2 separate regions of the Homo sapiens genome follow, and region 2 is linked to region 1. Evidence: fine-mapped expression QTL. A gene starts in region 1. The other region holds a variant in brackets. All regions are shown on one strand. Distances are between the middles of the regions.

Region 1 (8,000 bases):
TTTTTTCTTGTTTGTTTGTTTTTGTTTTTTGTTTTTGTTTTTTGTTTTTTTTGAGATGGAGTCTAGCTCTGTTGCCCAAGCTGGAGTACCGTGGCACGATCTCGGCTCACTGCAAGCTCCGCCTCCCGGGTTCACGCCGTTCTCCCGCCTCAGCCTCTCTGAGCAGCTGGGACTACAGGCGCCTGCCACCAAGCCCGGCTAATTTTTTGTATTTTTAGTAGAGACGGGGTTTCACCGTGTTAGCCAGGATGGTCTCGATCTCCTGACCTCATGATCCGCCCCCCTTGGCCTCCCAAAGTGCTGGGATTACAAGCATGAGCCACCGCGCCCGGCCCATGCTATATTCTTGATACTAAAGCTCCAGTCTGAAATATCTAGCTCTAAAAATAAGTAAACCATGGACTTTACTTTTGAGGATCCACACAGCATTGTGAAGATAGGTTGTTCTTTCCTTTTACAATTCAAATAATTTAGATCTATTGGCATTTGACTGCACTAATGAAATTTCTTGATTGTTTTAAAACTTCTTAGGAAATTAATCACAACTAGCTTATTTATCTATGCCATTATAATTTCACTAATGACAGAACCAAAACTAAAGCCCCCAAAGTTAGAGTGTAACCCCTCAGCATATTTTTCTAGATAGCTCTGTTCCCCTTTCAATGTCATTTAGCAAAAAAAAAAAAAAAAAAAAAAAAAAATTTTTTTTTTTTTTTTTAGACAGAGTCTTGCCCTGTTGCCCAGGGTGGAGTGCAATGGTGCAATCTCAGCTCACTGCAACATCTGCCTCCCCGGTTCTAGTGATTCTTGTGCTTCAGCCTCCTGAATAGCTGGGACTACAGGCATATGCCACCATACCTGGTTAATTTTTTTTTTTTTTTTTTTTTTTTTTTTTTTAGTAGTGACAGGGTTTTGCCACCTTGGTCAGGCTGGTCTTGAACTCCTGACCTCAGCCTCGGCCTCCCAAAGTGTTGGGATTACAGGCATGAGCCATCGCGCCTGGCCATCTAGGGAGTAGTTGATAGATCTGAGAACAGGAACATGTGCCTCCCAATTTCGAAGTTAGCTTTGGATAGTCGGGGAGTCTGCATAGATAAAAGGAAAACAATATCAAAGCAAAACAAGCAAACCTGAGTCCTGTTTCCAACGACTGCCAGTGTTTCAGACCCAAAGAATGAGGGCAAGATCCCTCTGCGAGGGTTTCAGACCTCCTTCTCCTACCCCACTGGAGTGCCTAGAAGCCAATGGTGCACAGTGATGATACGAATGTCAATCTTTGCTCGGTCAGTGAGGATGTCGCCTGTTGAGGGAAAAATAGTAGCTGTTGCCATATTCCTTTAACTCCCCCCCCCCCCGCCCCCCGCAATATGTCCCCTGAATAAACTTTGTGGGTAGTTTTTCTTCATTCCCAGAACTGTTATGAGGTAAGTTCAGAAATTGCCAGCTTCCTGATGCTCTATGCTTTGAACACACAAAATAATCAAAGGTGCTCTTTAGTAGGATCCTTTCCCTATCAAAATAACAGTAACACCCAATCTGAGGCCTCAAGCCCACTCCTTGAGCAAAACAAAAAGGGACAGGGGAGAGTTTGAGACACTGGCTACACCCTGATCCCCAAATCAGTGGTTTAAAAAAAATCTCAGACTCTTTCTTCAATCAGGAAGAATAGATTTCTTTTGTCTCTAGAAATCTCAGGTCATCCAAGGGACAACCTGATAGTTGATTTTTAAATTTAGTGACAAAAAACTTCAGCAACTGTCCTGATAGAGTAACAGCTAGTGATAACAATGGGTCAGGGATTCATATATTTCAAAATTAACTCAATAAAAATGAAACGTTTCTGTCTGTGGAGTCTAGATGTAAAAATGGAAAACTCATGCAATTACGTATGTTTCTTACATCATTTAAGAATTCAAAGAGTTAAAAATTAATTTCCATTAAGTTAAACTTTCCTTCTCTGGGTCTTGTTAGCAATATATGTTTGTTCATTCAAGCAAACCTGTGTCCTTTCCAAACATTTAAGCTCAACTAGATTTAAATGACCCTGGGAATAAAAATGGAGCAGGCCCTCTGGGGTTCCAGGTCTATGCTCATGCACTAAGCAACTAAAACAGAAATCATAACCTATGGCAGGTGGCCATTAGAAGGTTATGCCCTCACAGACCAAGAAGCTTGGGTCAGAAATCACTTTCCCACAATTTTATCCCATTTAACATTTAAACTAATATATGCAAACTGCTCACAGCACCTGGAATATTCAAATTGAATTAAAGATGCATGAAGAGGGCGTACAAGTTAGAATTTTTCTTTCGCCATACAGAAATTGTTTAGCCAGATCTTCTGTACTTCTTTTCCTTCCTAACACTCAGAATTCAGAAGAGAAGACATAAGAAAAAAAGCATAAAGTCATCATTACCTGTATCAGAATTTGTTTAAAAAACAACCAGTGGGGCAGGTGAACTGACCAGCGTCTTCCCAGCTTTAGTCACTGCAGTGGCAATGAGGCGCTCTCCACACCCCCAGTTATGTGACAGGCTAGAGCCCTGGTGTTCTCTCTTCAGAACCCCCCTCTCCTCCTTGGCAAGCTTCAAGCAACACCCCCAAAGACGCTGCTGGATCCAAACAACAGACAAAGCTCTCCACAGGAGCAGTTCTGAGCAGCACCCTGCAATTCTAAGGAGACTGCATGGGGGCAGGACATTTTCTTCTAGAACACTGGTTAGATTCTGCTAGAACTGGGGCAAGAAAATAGCTGTATGGCATAAAGTCTACTTGAGGGAAAAGAACAACCCGGCACGGTTACGTTCAATCAGACACTAAACAGAGTGCACGCCCACCCAGGGGACACTGAGGTCGCTGGGCCAGTGTCCCCGCCTGGTTGCAGGTCCCTAACCCCTCCGGGAGTGCAGAGCTGCGGGCAGGCCACACTCACCCTGACCCTTCCTGCTCCCCAGGAAGGGAGGTCAGCCCCGTTTGCAAAACACAGGATGCCCGTGACACCGGAGACAGGTCTTCTTCACCGACAGGAAGTGCCTTCTGGTGCCTGCACGTTTTAACTAAGATGTGTCGCCAATTACTTTTAATTACTGTCGTCCACGCTATTGTCATCAGCATTTCACAAGTTTCTCGGAAGCCCATCACGCAGCCCATACCCTGCGGTTCTCCGGGGACTTATGCATCGGCCCAAGTTGAGGGTTTGTCTGAACTGAAACCCGCATCCTAGACCTGGCTTTCTTCTCCCCAAATCCAAGGGGACACCCCGGTGACCCACAAAAGCTTAGAAAATCCAACACGCAGCAAATGAAACGGGGGAAAGGGGCACCGGCCCTCACTCTGGCCTCTTAGACACACGATATGAAACCTTCATAAAACCTGTTGTACAAGTCAAAGGGGACCACGCTGGGGTAAAAGTCAAACCAGTCCATCCTCGTTCCTCTGCGTACAGAGAGAGGGTCCAGCGCGGGCGGCGCCCACTGCCATCGGGCCGGGGCCGGGGCGCGTGGACAGGAGGGTGCGGATAGAGGCAGATCGGGGGCCCGGTCGCCCCACGTGCGGCCAGACACCCATCCCGGCCGCGCTCTGCCGGCTCTGATCCGGTGCCAGACAGGAGCGACAGGGGCGAGGTGGGGACCAGCCGCCGACCTCACCTGTTTTGTTTTCTTGGAGGAAATTCCTCCGCTGGGGGGCCGAGGTGGCACCGCCCGCTCGCCCCCCGCAAGACCCAGCCGGTCCGCGCCCGCTTACCTGCTCTGCGGCCGGCGGCCCTGGCGCGGGCTCTGCGCGGGGCGGCGCCCTTCGCTCCGGCTGGGCAGGCAGGTCGGGCTCGGGCGCCGCCGGCTGTCGGGCTCTCGTCGGGTTTCGGGTGAAGGCCCCGGCTCCCACCTGCTGCGCCTTTTAACCGCGCCCCACCCCGCCTCTGCCCTGACGCGGCTCGGGCGGGCTGCGGGAGGCGAGCGCTGTCACTCGACGAGCCCCCCGCCCCCACCTACCCGGGGCGCACTAGCCGCTGGGCGCGGACCGTCCCCCTGAGGAGCAAGGAGTGCAGGACCGGGGCTGTCCCTCCGGGGCCGGATGCGCAGAGCGGGGACCTTTTTCCCGTGGCGGGGGCGCAGGGTGGGGGACCCCTAAGAAGTGCACAGTGCGCGGGGCCCTCTTTCCGGCCCTTGGAGGGAACGGGGTACCGGGGATGCAGGGGGTAGGGCTCTCCCTCGGGAGCGCAGAGGGCGGGCCCAGCCCCCTCTGCACGGGTGCAGGTGTGGGGCGCCTGCTCAGGCCCTCGAGGGAACTCTTCCTCCCTAGTGCACCCGTGGGGAGCAGTGTGAGGGGCAGGCTGTGTTTTTGCCAGGACACATCCTCAGTCTTTCTGGGTGATCCAGCCTTCTCATAGCCCGCGGGGTGCACAGACCTCTCCTATAGGAGCCTGGAGGTTCTTTATTAATTAATGACCACTTAGAGGAGGTACAGGGGTTGTTTTTATTAATTACCTCCATCCTTTGAAGACTCCTCCGGGGAAGCGGAGCAGGCCTTCCTCGGGACAGTGCACCAGGAGAGACCACATTGCCTCCCCGCTTTTCAGTCAAGACTAGAAAGCTCAGGGCCAGTACAGGGAGTGGTGCAAGGGCTGGTGGGGTGGAAACGTTGGAAGCTATTTAGGCACCTGGCTTTACAGGTTCAAACCTGTCACGCATCGGACAAAAGATGTGTGACTTGCTTATTCTACAAAACTGTTCGGTAATTAAACGTCCCCACCTAAACCATATGCCACTTGTTGGGTCATATTCTCCCACGAAACAATTAAGATGTCTGTTAAAGGTCATGGAATTTGAGCCAAGACTTCATAAAAATCCGCTTTCCAAAATATTTTATTTGAGGAGAACAAGGTTCTTAAAGAATTTGCCCAAGTCAAGTTTTAAAAACTTTGGGGAGGCCCCTGAAATGGCCTTGAACTTGGAGAGTGGAGAGACACAGAAATCTCTAGGCTTTTTAAATTTATTTATTTATTTATTTATTTATTTATTTATTTATTTATTTTGACTAAGTCTGGCTCTGTTGCCCAGGCTGGAGTGTGGTGGTGTGATCTCAGCTCATTGCAACCTCTGCCTCCCGGGTTCAAGTGATTCTCCTGCCTCAGCTTCCCGAGTCGCTGGGATTACAGGCCCGCACCACCATGCCTGGCTAGGTTTTGTATTTTTAGTAGAGCTGGGTTTCACCATGTTGGCCAGGCTGGTCTGGAGCTCCTGACCTCAGGTGATCCACCTGCCTCAGCCTCCCAAAGTGCTGGGATTACAGGCGTGAGCCACCGCGCCGAGCATCTCTAGGCTTTTTTGTTAGACATCCTCACACTGCCCAGATGTGCCCTATGCGGTAAATCTTGGGTGCTCTGTCCTGCCCCACACAATCTAACTGTGGACTTCCCAGTCTTCTCTCCATTCCTCTCCCAAACAGATGCTTCAGCCAGGCTCAGCTGTTTGCATAGTAAAATAATTTTTCTAAGCAGATTGTAAACTTCTTTGGGGATTATAAACAGTTTAAGCTTTTCTTCCTCTTCTTCTTCTTTTGCATTTCTACAATACTAAGTACTTTGCTCATAGTATGTGCTGCTCCATGAGTATTTGAATATTGCTTGGCAAAGCTGAACCAGCATAGCAGATAGTCCTGGAAATAGCTTTTGCTTTTTCTAAAGCATGCCCTGTTCTCAATCCTGCACCTGATTCCATGCAGTACTGTGTCTGAGCATTGACATCCTGGACCAGTGGAAATTGTTCTAGGACTGGTGCAGGATAGAACTTTCAAACCAAAGTTGTCACAGAGAATGTGTTGCATTTGCTCATGTGTGCAAAAATGAAACCATCTCATCACTGTGTAAAATATCTCTTTTTCTGTTCAGGTTATCTATATTAGTCTGCATGGCCTTAACATTGAACACTGTCCTTCAGTTTTTGCTACTCATCAGACAGTCTTGTTGCAGCAGAAATTAAATGTGGACTGTATAAAACTTAAGGACTTGATGGGATGCGCATTTGAAAACTGAAAATTAGTTGTCTTAGTCCATTTGTGTTGCTATAACAGAATACCATAGACTGGGTAACTGATAAAGAAAAGAAATTTATTTTTCAGAATTCTAGAGGCTGGGAAGTCTGATATCAAGATGCTCGCATCTGGCGAGGGTTTTCTTGCTGTGTCTTCCCATGGCAGAGGTGGAGGGGCAAAAGAATGAGAAGATAGGGAAAGAAAAGAGAGAGAGGTGGGGGTGGAGAGAGAGGAAGGGGTTCAAACTCATTGTTTTTTCAGGAACCCACTCTCAAGATAACTAACCCACTCTAGAGATCACAGCATTAATCCATTCATGAGGGCAAAGCCATCATACCTCCTCACCTCTTAAAAGTCCCTCCCATCTTTCAACACTGTTTCATTGGGGATTAAGTTTCCAACACATGGACTTTAGGGGACACATTCAAACCATAGCATTCTGTCTTAGCCCCCCAAATTCATGCCTTTCTCACATGTGAAATACATTCATTCCATCCCAATAGTCCCCAAAGGCTTAACTCTTCCAGCACCAACTGAAAAGTTCAAATCCAGAGTCCCATCTAAATCAGATAAAGCTAAGACTCCAAGGCAGGCATAGCTGGCCTGAGGCAGACTCCTTTCCAGCTGTGAACCTGTGAAATCAAAACAGGCTATCTACTCCCAAAAGACAATGGTGGGGCAGGCATAGGAGAGATATTTTCATTCCAAAAGGGAGAGAGAGGCAGGAAGAAAGGGGTAACTGGTTCCAGCTACATCTAGAACCCAACATGCATGTGTTAGGCTGTTTTTGCATTGCCACAAATAAATACCCGAGGCTGGGTAATTTATAAAGAAAAGACAGGCCGGTGTGGTGGCTCACGCCTGTAATCCCAGCACTTTGGGAGGCTGAGGCAGGAGGATTGCTTGAGCTCAGGAGTTTAAGACCATCCTGGGCAATATAGTGAGACCTCATCTCTACTAAAAAAAAAAAAAAAAAAAAAAATTAGCTGGGTGTGATGGTGTGTGCCTGTAGTCCCTGTTACTCAGGAGGCTGAGGCAGGAGGATCACTTGAGCCTGGGTGATGGAGGCTGCAGTGAGCTATGATCTTGCCACTGTGCTCCAGCCTGAGCAACACAGTGAGACCGGTCTCAAAAAAAGAAAAGAAAAGAAATTTAATTCACTCATGGTTCTGCAGACAGTGCAAGAAACATGGTGCTAGCATCTGCTTCTGGTGAGGGCCTCAGCAAGTTTCCAATCACGTTGGAAGGACAAGGGAGAGCAAATGTCTCACATGGTGAGAGTGCGAGCAAGAGAAAAAGCAGGGAGGTGCCCTATACTTTTAAATAACCAGATCGCAAGTGAACTCATTGGTCACCAAGGGGATGGCACTAAGCCATTCATTAGGGATCCACCCCCATGATTCAAACACCTCCCACTAGGCCTCGCCTCCAACATTGGAGATTACACTTCAACATGAGATTTGGAGGGGACAAATACCCAAACTATATCAATGGAAAAAAAACATTAAGTCTTAAAACTGGTGAATAATCTCCTCTGACTCCCTGTCCTGCGATCTGGGCACACTGGAGTGGGGCTTGGACCCCTCAAGACCTCAGGCAGCCCCTCCCCTATGGCTTTGCTGGGATCAGTCCACCCAGCAGCTCTCAGAGGTTGGAGTCTCATGCCTGCAGCTTTCCCAGGTTGGAGTTGCACACTAGTGACCCTACAGTTCTGGGGGATCGGGGCTCCCCGGCTCCCATGCCTCACCTCTGTGACAAGTGTCTGCCTGAGCCCCTAGCCGGTCCAAGTCATCCTTTGAAATCTAGGTGGAGGCCACCATGGCCCCACAGCTTGTACATTCTGCATGTCTGCAGAGTCAGCACTACATGCATGCCACCAAGGTTTGCAGCTTATACCTTCCAGAATGGTGGGTCAAACTGTGGGGTGCTGTGCCAGAATTTGGGGAGCAGAGTCCCAGGGCAATGTAGGG
Region 2 (10,511 bases), 28 kb after region 1:
ACAATCCTTGAAATACAAGTGTTGTGATCCCTGTTCTACAGTTGAGGTGACCAAAGTACATTCGTTAGGTGACATGCCCAAGATGCAGAACTAGCACACACGGAGCTGGGTAGGACTGGAGCCCCATCTTCCCCTTACTTGAGTCATCATGCAAGCAATTCTTGATCTGGAATCCATGGTCTGGCAGTGAAGGCTCAAGGATGGACTTCTTACTCATGAGCTCCATGAAATTGTTTATAAAAGTCTATGTCAGGTCGGGCATGGTGGCTCACGCCTGTAATCCCATCACTTTGGGAGGCCAAGGTGGGTGGATCACCTGAGGTCAGGAGTTCAATACCAGCCTGGTCAACATGGTGAAACCCCCATCTCTACTAAAAATACAAAAATTAGCCAGGCATGATGGCGCACGCCTGTAGTCCCAGCTACCCGTGAGGCTGAGGCAGGAGAATTGCTTGAACCTGGGAGGCAGAGGTTGCAGTGAGCCAAGATCACGCCACTGTACTCCAGCCTGGGTGACAGAGCAAGATTCCACCTCAAAAAAAAAAAAAAAATACAGTCTGTGTCTCTATGCTCATATGCATTTTTCTTTTCTGTTTTCTTTCTTTCTTTTTTTTTTCTCAAGATGGATTCTCACTCTGTTGCCCAGGTTGGAGTGCAGTGGCACAATCTTGGCTCACTGAAACCTCCTTCTCCTGGGTTCAAGTGATTCTCCTGCCTCAGCCTCCTGAGTAGGTGGGATTACAGGTGCCTGTCACCACGCCTGGCTAATTTTTGTATTTTTAAAAATTATTATTTTTTTCGAGATGGGATCTCATTCTGTCGCCCAGGCTGGAGTATGGTGGCCCGATCTCAGCTCACTGAAACCTCCACCTCTTGGGTTCAAGCGATTCCCCTGCCTCAGCCTCTGGAGTAGCTGGGACTACAGGGGCCCACCACCACACCCGGCTAATTTTTGTATTTTTGGTAGAGATGGGGTTTCACCATGTTGGCCAGGCTGTTCTCAAACTCTTGACCTCAGGTGATCTGCCCGTCTAGGCCTCTCAAAGTGCTGGGATTACAGGCATGAGCCACTGTGCCCAGACCTCATATCCATTTTTTTAAGTGATCATGTCTGTAGCATTAATTAGATTCACCAAGGGATCCACAGCTCTGGAGAGATGAAGCAGTGTATGGTGACACTCACCAAATCTCACTTCTACTTGAGGCTACCCGGTTGTTCTTAATGAACTCTCTAGAGAAGATCAACTCTTCCTGATATAAATGTCTGGCCTTTTTACCACATCTGAAATGCAGTGTCAGGTTCCACTTACCATTTGTGACTAATTCTGTCCCCAAAATTCACATCTATGATGCTGATTACAAAGTGTTTCTAATCTTGGATCTTTTTGGTCTCTTATCTGTGATGTAGTGTGGACCCAGGTATGGATGGAGGGAGCAAAATTTTAAGAATAAGGATCGTCATCAAAAAAGACTATCTCCTGGGGAATTTCTATACCTGGAAATAGTAACTCCTCTGTTTAGACAGCTGGCACTTTTTTATACATCCTAAAATGTACAAAGCAGTGAGAGGGCAGCCTGCCTCCAAACTCAGTCTCCTTAGGGTGTTTCTTATTAGCAGCCATCCTTCCCTCTTGTTACTCACCTTGTTCTGCTCACTGTGAACCAGCTCCATCTTGCTCCTGTCTGGGCAACTAGAGCTTGACCAGCATCCTGACATTCTATCACACACATATAATTTCCTTAGCATCTCATCAGCAGGACTGTGCATGGCAGATGGTGTCAGGAGCTGACCGCTCAAGATGGGTGGAGAACACAAGGTGGGTGGCCAAGTGCAGAAGAACAGCAGGTACTTGGGAAGTCTGAGGATGACAGAACCAAGCAGCAGACCCATTCTAAGCCAGGTTGTAATACAGGCGGAGTGTGATGGCGGCTCTGGGGAGAGCAAGGAGAAATGGCATCTGGCATGAGAAGTCTTTGGCTTCTTTGGAGTTAACAGGCTTAGTTCAAATCTCCAGGACTATTCTCCATTCTCTTCTATAGTAAGCTGAGTAACTATTTCAGTGAATGCCCATATGAGCAAAGCATAATATTAATAAAAAATAGACGATAGCAAAAATCTTAGTTTGCATTTGTAAGGAGTCAAATGTTTGTGGAGCTTGGGATGAGGACTGGGAAAAGTGACTTAAGTTGGTAGATCTGAGCAATCCCAGTGCCCAGTGGGTACTTTCCTTCCTTCTTTTCTTTCCTTCCTTCTTCCGACCAGTAAAACAACAATACTGATTGGTTCATCCACATACACCAAAGGAGTCGTTATACAATAGAATGATGATTGTCCTATTCAGAACCTCCCATGAAAAAGGTACAGAGTTTGTCTGCAATGGAGATTGTTTTAGAACTTTTATTTTAGAGTCATTGTTTAAGTTATCTGCTGCTGTATAACAAGTATTTCAAAACTTATTGGTTTAAAAAGCCATAATTTATTATTTCTCGTGATTCTGTGGGTTTGTGGGGCTCAGCTGGGTGGTTTCTGCTGCTCTTACATGAGGTGTCTTGTTCAACTCAGCTGGAAGCTGGACTGGGCTGGACTTCAGGGTGCCTTCTCTTCGTTCTGGGTCAACTCTTCATGGCCTCCCAGCACTTGGTGGTTTAGCCTGAGTTTCTTACATGGCAGCTGGATCCCAAGGCAGAGGTTCAGAGCTGCCTCTGTGGTGGCTTTGCTGCAGTCCATTGACACAAGCGGGTCATGAGGATAGCAGGCATTCAAGCAGTGGGGCCATGCCTCTATTTTTAGTTGCCCTCTTTAGGCGCACATAACATCACAGTTATCTATTTTCAGAACACATGCTAATGTGTGTTTAGAGTGTTTAGAGCATGTTCACACAATTATTTAATGTGATCTGCAGAGCACTTATAACCCTTACACCTAAGAAAGGCACATCTCAGAGCAGGAAAGTGATTCACCCTAGGTCCTATCCATAGTAAGAAATGGAGCCAGAACTTATAGGGTCTCCTGACTCCTGGCTCCATGGGCTACAGAAGCTGCTCTTGAAGGAAGCTTCTCCCAGTGGGAGTGGATTTGATCCTTGGAAACACCTGAACATCATTCTGCATTAGGTTTGGTTAACAAAATAAAGTGATTGGCTGAGCTGGGTAAACAGTGGTTTTGGTCAAACATGGAATGAGACCGTGCCACGTATTTCCGGTGTGGCTCTTCAATGACTCCTGAGCGTGTGTGGAATATGAGCGTGGTCTCCCAGGATACTTCAAAGGTGTACGAGTCCCTTTGTCAGTGCCACGCGTCCCTGCTCATGGGTATAACATGCCTGGGGATTTGCACAGGCAGCTTTCAGGGTTGTCAAGGAGCCAGGTGACCCAGAACAGGAGGCTGGGCTGGCGGATCTCTGAACGTCATTTCTAGCTCTGCGTCAGTGAACTCCGTGCCGCTGTATTGGTTTGCAGTTATTTTGCTTTCTTTTCAAACTCTACTTCAGAAAAATGCTGGGAAAGAGGGAAGCTTTGAAATGAACACCTTTTATCTGTTTTCATTTTTCTTCCTAAACAAATCCCTTC[G/A]GTTTTTGTTTCATTTCCCTCTTGGCCCCAGTGCCTGGCTCTCCTAAATTGCTCTCTGTAATCTCTACAACAGAACAGCAGCGTTCCCTTATATGTTGTCTATTTATTAATGATTTCCATTTCTCTTGCTTCCATGGGGTTGCAATGTTATTTTAACCTTATGTTGCTCATTATTTTCCTTCTTTTTATTTCATGCAAATAGTTTTGCAGTTTTTCTTATAATAACGATTTTTTTTTTTGAGAGAGGAGAGAGAGAGAGAGAGAGTCTCACTCTGTTGCCCAGGCTGGAGTGCAGTGGCTTGAGTGATCACGGTTCACTGTAACCTTGACCTCCTGGACTCAAGCCATCCTCCCACCTCCGCATCCTAAGTAGCTGGGACTACAGGCACACACCACCGTGTAGAGGTGGGGGTCTCACTACATTACCCAGGCTGCTCTCAAATTCCTGGGCTCAAGCAATTCTCCCACCTTGGCATCCCAAAGTGCTGAGATTACAGGTGTGAGCCACCATGCCTAGCCTATAATGATTCTTTCACGTGGCTGATTTCAGCCTCTCACTTTCATAAGATCAGTTATTATTTTATTTTATCTTATTTTTATTTTTGATTCTTCAACTCCACATCCAGGGTTAGCACCACTCTACAGTTTATAATCTGTCTTTATTGTCTCATCCAATGTCCCTTAGATCTTATTTATTTACGAATTATGTGCTTCCTTGAATTCCCATATTAGTTTCACTGTTCAATGTCTGACAGCATTGCTGATTCCAGAAGTGGTTGATATTAAATTGTCATGGATTGTGTGCAAGTGTGTATATTTATGCAAATGATTCTTTTTTTATTAATATATAATAGATGTAAATATTTTGGGGGTACATGTTAATACACTCATTTAATTTGTAAAGATCAAATTGGGGTAATTAGGATATCCATCACCTTAAATATTCATCTTCTCTTCATGCTAGAAACATTTGAATTATTCTCTTCTAACTATTTTTGAAATATACAATAAATGATTGTAAACTATAGTCACCCTACTGATTTATCAAACACTATGTCTTATTTCTTCTAGCAAACTGTATATTTGTACTCATTAATCAACCTGTCTTCGTGCTCCCCACTCCTGCTCTTCCTAGCCTCTGGTAATCAGCAATTTACTCTCTATTTTCATGGGATCCCACATCTGAGTAAGAACATACAATATTTGTCTTTCTGTGCTTGGCTTATTTCATTTAACATGATGACTTCCAGTTCCCTCTATGTTGCTGCAAATGACAGGACTTTCTTCTTTTTTATGGCTGAGTAATATGCCATTATGTATACACCACATTTTCCTTAACCATTTATTAATGGGCACTTAGGTTGATTCCATATTTTGGCTGTTGTGAATAGTGCTGCAGTAAACATGAAAATGCAGACGTCTCTTCAATATATTGATTTCCTTTCTTTTGGATAAATGTCCAGTAGTGAGATTTCTGGATCATATTGCAGTTCTATTTTTAGTTTTGTTAGGAACCACCATATTGTTCACCATAGTGGTTGTACTAATTTACATTCCCACCAACAGTATATGAGGGCTCTGCTTTCTCCAAATACTTGCCAACCTTCGTTATTGCCTGTCTTTTTTTTTTTTTTTTTTTGAGATGGAGTCTTGCTCTGTCATCATGCTGGAGTGCAGTGGCAGGATCTCGGCTCACTGCAAGCTCCGCCTCCTGGGTTCACTCCATTCTCCTGCCTCAGCCTCCCGAGTAGCTGGGACTACAGGCACGTGCCACCATGCCTGGCTAATTTTTTGTACTTTTAGTAGAGACGGGGTTTCACCGTGTTAGCCAGGATGGTCTCCATCTCCTGACCTCGTGATCTGCCCGCCTTGGCCTCCCAAAGTGCTGGGATTACAGGCGTGAGCCACCGCGCCCGGCCTATTCCCTGTGTTTTTTATAAAAGTCATTATAACTGGGGTGAGATGAAATCTCACTGCAGTTTTGATTTGCATTTCTCTGATGATTAGTGACATTGAGCACTTTTTCATATACCTGTAGGCCATTTGTATGTCTTCTTTTGAAAAATGTCTATTCAGATCTTTTGCTCATTTTTTAATCTGATTAAGATCAGCTTTTTTAAAATGTTTGCTTGAAGCCCCAAATTGTTCTATGCATTTTTCAAGGCATAGAATTTATTATATGATTAGACAGTTTGTTGTTTGTTACTTCTTGTGGAAAAATTTTTAATAAGTGTGCTGACAGCCATTCATTTACCCACTCAACAAAGGTTTGTCAGGTTTCTACTATGTCCAGTGACTGTCCTAAGCACAGAGGTTATGGTGGAGAATAAGGCAGATGCAGCCCCACGGAATTTGGTATTTTGTGTTATGAAATGGCAAATAGCCATAGCCTGAAATCTCACGGTTTCTCAGAGTTTCATGACATTAGTGAAGGCATGGGCAGCAGCTGCTGTTCATGTTGCTTTAAACTGGTGTTAGGAGCCACTGCCAGAAGCAAAACAATTGTAGGCAACCAAATGAGGTGATGTGCAGTGTATGGGAAGGCCAGGGCGGGGTTGTTGAAGGACCAGCAGGGTTGAGACTCAGCCGTGCAGTTAAGTGACACTGTTTTAAGTGAACACGAAATGCACACTTTATTATGGCCCCTACTTAAATCTGGATGTTCTCTTTTGTAGTTGTACAACAGATTGATGACATGGTGATGTCAGGCCAGGAAACAGAGAGGGGACAATCTATCCCAGTAAGGGCACTGGAGTCCTAGCTCTGTCTTGGAACCAGCACCCAGTGGGAGCTGATGGCCAGTCTACTCGCTCCAGCAGACCATCTTCTCTCCCCTCCAGCTCCTACAGTGTTTTATGTTATTCATAAGGCACTGGTCTCAAACTGCCTGCTCTGTAGTGAGTTTGATACTTTTATGTATCCTTAACTGGATGCTAAGTTCCTTAGGGACAAGAATTCTTCCTTCTACCACTCTTTCCTCTCGATGCCGATAACCACATCCAACTGGGTTTCATTTGATCGAGCATTTTATCAGACCCTGGGAAATGTACTATTGAAGTTTCTTTCTTTTATTTTTTTTCTTTTTCTTTTCTTTTCTTTCTTTCTTTTTTTTTTTTTCTTGAGATGGAGTTCGCTCTTGTCGCCGAGACTGGAGTGCAGTGGTACGATCTTGGATCACTGCAACTTCTGTCTCCCGGGTTCAAGCGATTCTCCTGCCTCAGCCTCCCGAGCAGCTGGGACTACAGGCGCATGCCGCCACGCCTGGCTAATTTTTGTATTTTTAGTAGAGACGGGGTTTCACCATGTTGGCCGGGCTGGTCTCGAACTCCTGACCTCAGGTGATCTGCCCGTCTCAGCCTCCCAAATGGCTGGGATTACAGGCGTGAGCCACCATGCCCAGCCTACTGTAGAATTTTCTTATACAATCAAAATTGCTCATAAATGCGGTCCTTTTGGGTCCTTCATTATAACCATATGCTCTTTCTTGGGTGGGATCAAAGTCTTAAACCTCATTCAATTCTAGTTGACTGTGGAACTCAATATGTTAAAAAATAAAGAAGATGAATATTGTTACTGTCTTTGTAGCAATCTTGGGGTACTTGATTGTCCTAATTTTATAAATGAAGAAAACTTAGTATAGAAACTGTAGTAACTTTCCCAAAGCCACATGCTTTATTTAATTTTATTTTAAATTTAAAAAAATTTTTTATTTTTTGTAGAGATGGGGTCTCACTATCTTTCCCAGGCTGGTCTCAAATTCCTAGGCTCAAGCGATCCTCCCACCTCAGCCTCCCAAAGTGCTGAGATTACAGGCATGAGCCACTGTGCCCAGCCATCACATGCTTTAAAAGTGAGCAAACAGCTTGAACCAATCTAAACAGCTTATTTATTTGAGGTAATAAACTTTTCCTTCTTCCTGAGTTTTCCTAAATTCTTCTCTATCATGAAAATAGCATTAATAGCTAAAATTTTAAGTGTTTAGAGGTTTTGCCTTTCAAATCCAGTAAGTCTCCAGAGTCAACAGGTGCTACAAGATGCTACTGGCAGTAACAGTGCTTCTCCAGGATTGTGGTAGGTGGTGTCTAAGGGTCTTTTCAGCTTGAAGGTTCTGTTTCCCAGTTCTGTCTCACTTAAGATCAGATCTTGGTGAGTATATTGGCAAACCATTTCATTATTTAAATTTGTAAAATACAGGCTTTAGGCCGGGCGCGGTGGCTCACACCTGTAATCCCAGCACTTTGGGAGGCCCAGGCGGGCAGATCACCTGAGGTTGGGAGTTTGAGACCAGCCTGACCAACATGGTGAAACTACGTCTCTACTGAAAATACAAACTTAGCCAGGCTTGGTGGCACATGCCTGTAATCCCAGCTACTCGAGAGGCTGAGGCAGGAGAATCGCTTGAACCCGAGAGGCGGAGGTTGCTGTGAGCTAAGATTGTGCCATTGCACTCCAGCTTGGGCAACAAGAATGAAACTCCATCTCAAAAAAAAAAAAACAACAACAACAACAAAAACAGGCTTTAATTGTATTTCATACTCTTTAACTAACTAGATATTAACTATAAAATATTAACAATTTCAAATTTTTGTTAAAGGAATACATTTACACAGCTTAAAAATTCAAGTGGAACTAAAAGGTTTACAAGGCAATATTTCAGTCCTCTGCCCCATTCTCTGCTCCTCCCACCCTGTATGCTGTCCCAGAGGCAACCAACGCCTTTCATTTTTTAGAGCTCTTCTGACGTTTACCTTTATGTTTCCAAATAATGTGCTTATTATGCCATTTACTGATTGCTGGACTTTAGACCTGTTGACTTTTTCTGCTATGGTAGTGGAGGCTTTAGCTCTGACCTGAGCCCCACTGCTCCTGCTCCACCCACACCTCTTCCCTCACCCTCATGACATGATCATGGCTCATACTCTGGTCAAATACATATTGTTATTTATATTATTTTGACTGCGAGCATAATGACGTCTGGACCAAGTTGTATTCTATGTTACATTTTCTTTTGGTTGCAATTGCCTCCCTTCCCTGAGAGTGAACCATGACTGGGGTTTTCATTTGCTTGGCTTTCTATGTGTCTATTGTTCGGCTTTTCCTACTCTTCCAACAAATCTGTCATATGCCCGGAAACAATTTTTTCAAGTTCCCAGACATGGTTCCGCACAGTCCATCTATTCCATCTGTTTCTTTCCCTTTTCCCGGGGGCTGTGGTCTGGGCAGGGTGCTCTGGCCCTCTGCCCAGTGGTCCCCTGGGCTCCCCTTGCCTTTCCCCTGGGCCAGAGCTTGTGCTTTCTGGAGTCCGTGTCTTCCTGTCTTGGTCTCTACCTTCATTTTGCTGAAGCACACACCTTCCAGGAACTTCCTCAGGAGGGGAATGTGGAACTAAACTTCTATGCACATAAAGTCTTCATATCACCCTCAAACCCGATCTGTCTCCCCGCCTCCAATGTACTTTCCTTTCCTCTCTTATTTTCTCTGTTTTTATGAACTTACACCTTTTTTCTTCACTATTGTGTAATTGGCATTTAAGATGGGAGTAGAGATAAATGCACCTGTGTAGGCTCATACTAACCACACGCCTCAGTGCATGGGTGTTTATCAGACTTCTCTCAATCAAGAGCTGCGCTGAGTACTTGTGAAGGCCCTGCAGGGCTGGTGCTGAGTAAGTTCAGGATTGGGCACCTCTGAGGGGTGAGGAAATGGAGGTTCAGAGACGAGAAGGAACTTCCCCAAGGCCACATGGTTAATGATTGGAAGATCTGAGATTCTAAACCAAACCTGAGTCGATCACTTCCCTTTCTGTCCACTGCACTGATAACTGAAGCCCAAGGGCTGAGGCCACACCTCAGCGTGTGAGGATCAGCAGAGGAGACCCTGCTGGCTGCGGGATGTGGATAGGCTTTGAGGAAGAGGAAAAGCACAGGCAAAATGTCAAAGATAAGTGGGAATGAGGTTCCCTGGAGCATGAGTCGCAGGTGCTCAGGAAGGTGCTGGCAGCTCTAGAGAAGGCCAGAGAGAAGCACCCAGTGGTGGGAGCCACAGCCCCAAGACACAGGCTAAAGCCCCAGCCCAGGGTGGGTGAGCTCCACCCTGTCACCTATGGGGTTGCATGCAAGTGGTTCCTCTAAGCATTGGCTTCATCTGGGAGGCGGGGGTGACATCGCTTCTTTGAGCCTTATTTGGAGGACTAAACAACACATGCATTTTGTCATTAGGCTGGTGCAAAAGTAATTGTGGTTTTTTTCTATTACTTTTAATGGTAAAAACCGCAATTAGTTTTGCAGCAACATACTAACTTTAAAGTTCTTAATACATATGAGATATTATTTCTATCAGCTTAGAAGGATCCATTATGATTGTAGAAGACCTGGGATGCCAGTCTGAGGAACTCTTCTTTTCTTAAGCAAAGGAGAAACAAAATAATTCTGATGGGGGAGTGACTGACCCCAGTCTGGCTCACCGGCGGCTGTGAAGTCCTGAGTGTCCTCTGGCAGCTGCCTTTGAAAGCGCAGTGGTGTCCGGGGCTCGCCACTGAATAGCGTTTGTTCTCAGAAGGGAGCCCGGTGGAAAATTTGAAGCTGCAGTTAGGAACTGTGTGTATGGCCTTGGAAACTGAAGATGTTCCTTTAAAAGAAAAATCACAGTGTTTTTAAAACTCAGATGACAGCTTTGACCATTATCTGCTTTCCTCTCCTGCCAGCTCTAGAGTTTTCTTGGGATGTTATCAAGGATGATATCACAACAATGCCCACTTCTGTTTTGTTTTTAACCTGAATGACAAATTACCAATCAGCAGATGTAGGCCATCCAGGGAAGTTTCTTTTAAATGCTGGACTTTTGCAAAAATGTAGAGCCTTGGTGGCAATTGTGATTCTTTTTTTTTTCTTTTCTTTTCCCCAATGAAGGTACTTTTTTTTATGTCCAGTTTTGGAAGGCTC

Alleles and levels. Positions count from the first base shown, and alleles are read on the strand shown. Sizes are in standard deviations (SD) of each study's normalised expression.
With allele A in place of G in region 2, the expression in thyroid of the gene that starts at base 3,870 in region 1 is higher (small effect, 0.26 SD a copy in GTEx).

What was found. PIP is the estimated chance that this variant, and not a neighbour inherited with it, causes the effect.
Region 2: its variant is the best candidate, but not a certain one, in a credible set for the expression of GJB6 in thyroid (GTEx, PIP 0.87).

The regions. Positions count from the first base shown.
Region 1 is chr13:20,228,450-20,236,449 of GRCh38, forward strand. It overlaps GJB6 (gap junction protein beta 6), which reads right to left and starts at 3,870. Exons shown (of 5, transcript NM_001110219.3): 1 at 3,745-3,870; 2 at 2,933-3,056; 3 at 2,249-2,358; 4 at 1,131-1,300.
Region 2 is chr13:20,255,206-20,265,716 of GRCh38, forward strand. No RefSeq gene overlaps it. Among named protein-coding and RNA genes, the nearest start is that of GJB6, 28 kb to the left of the region's middle. The variant G/A (reference allele first, on the strand shown) is at 3,571.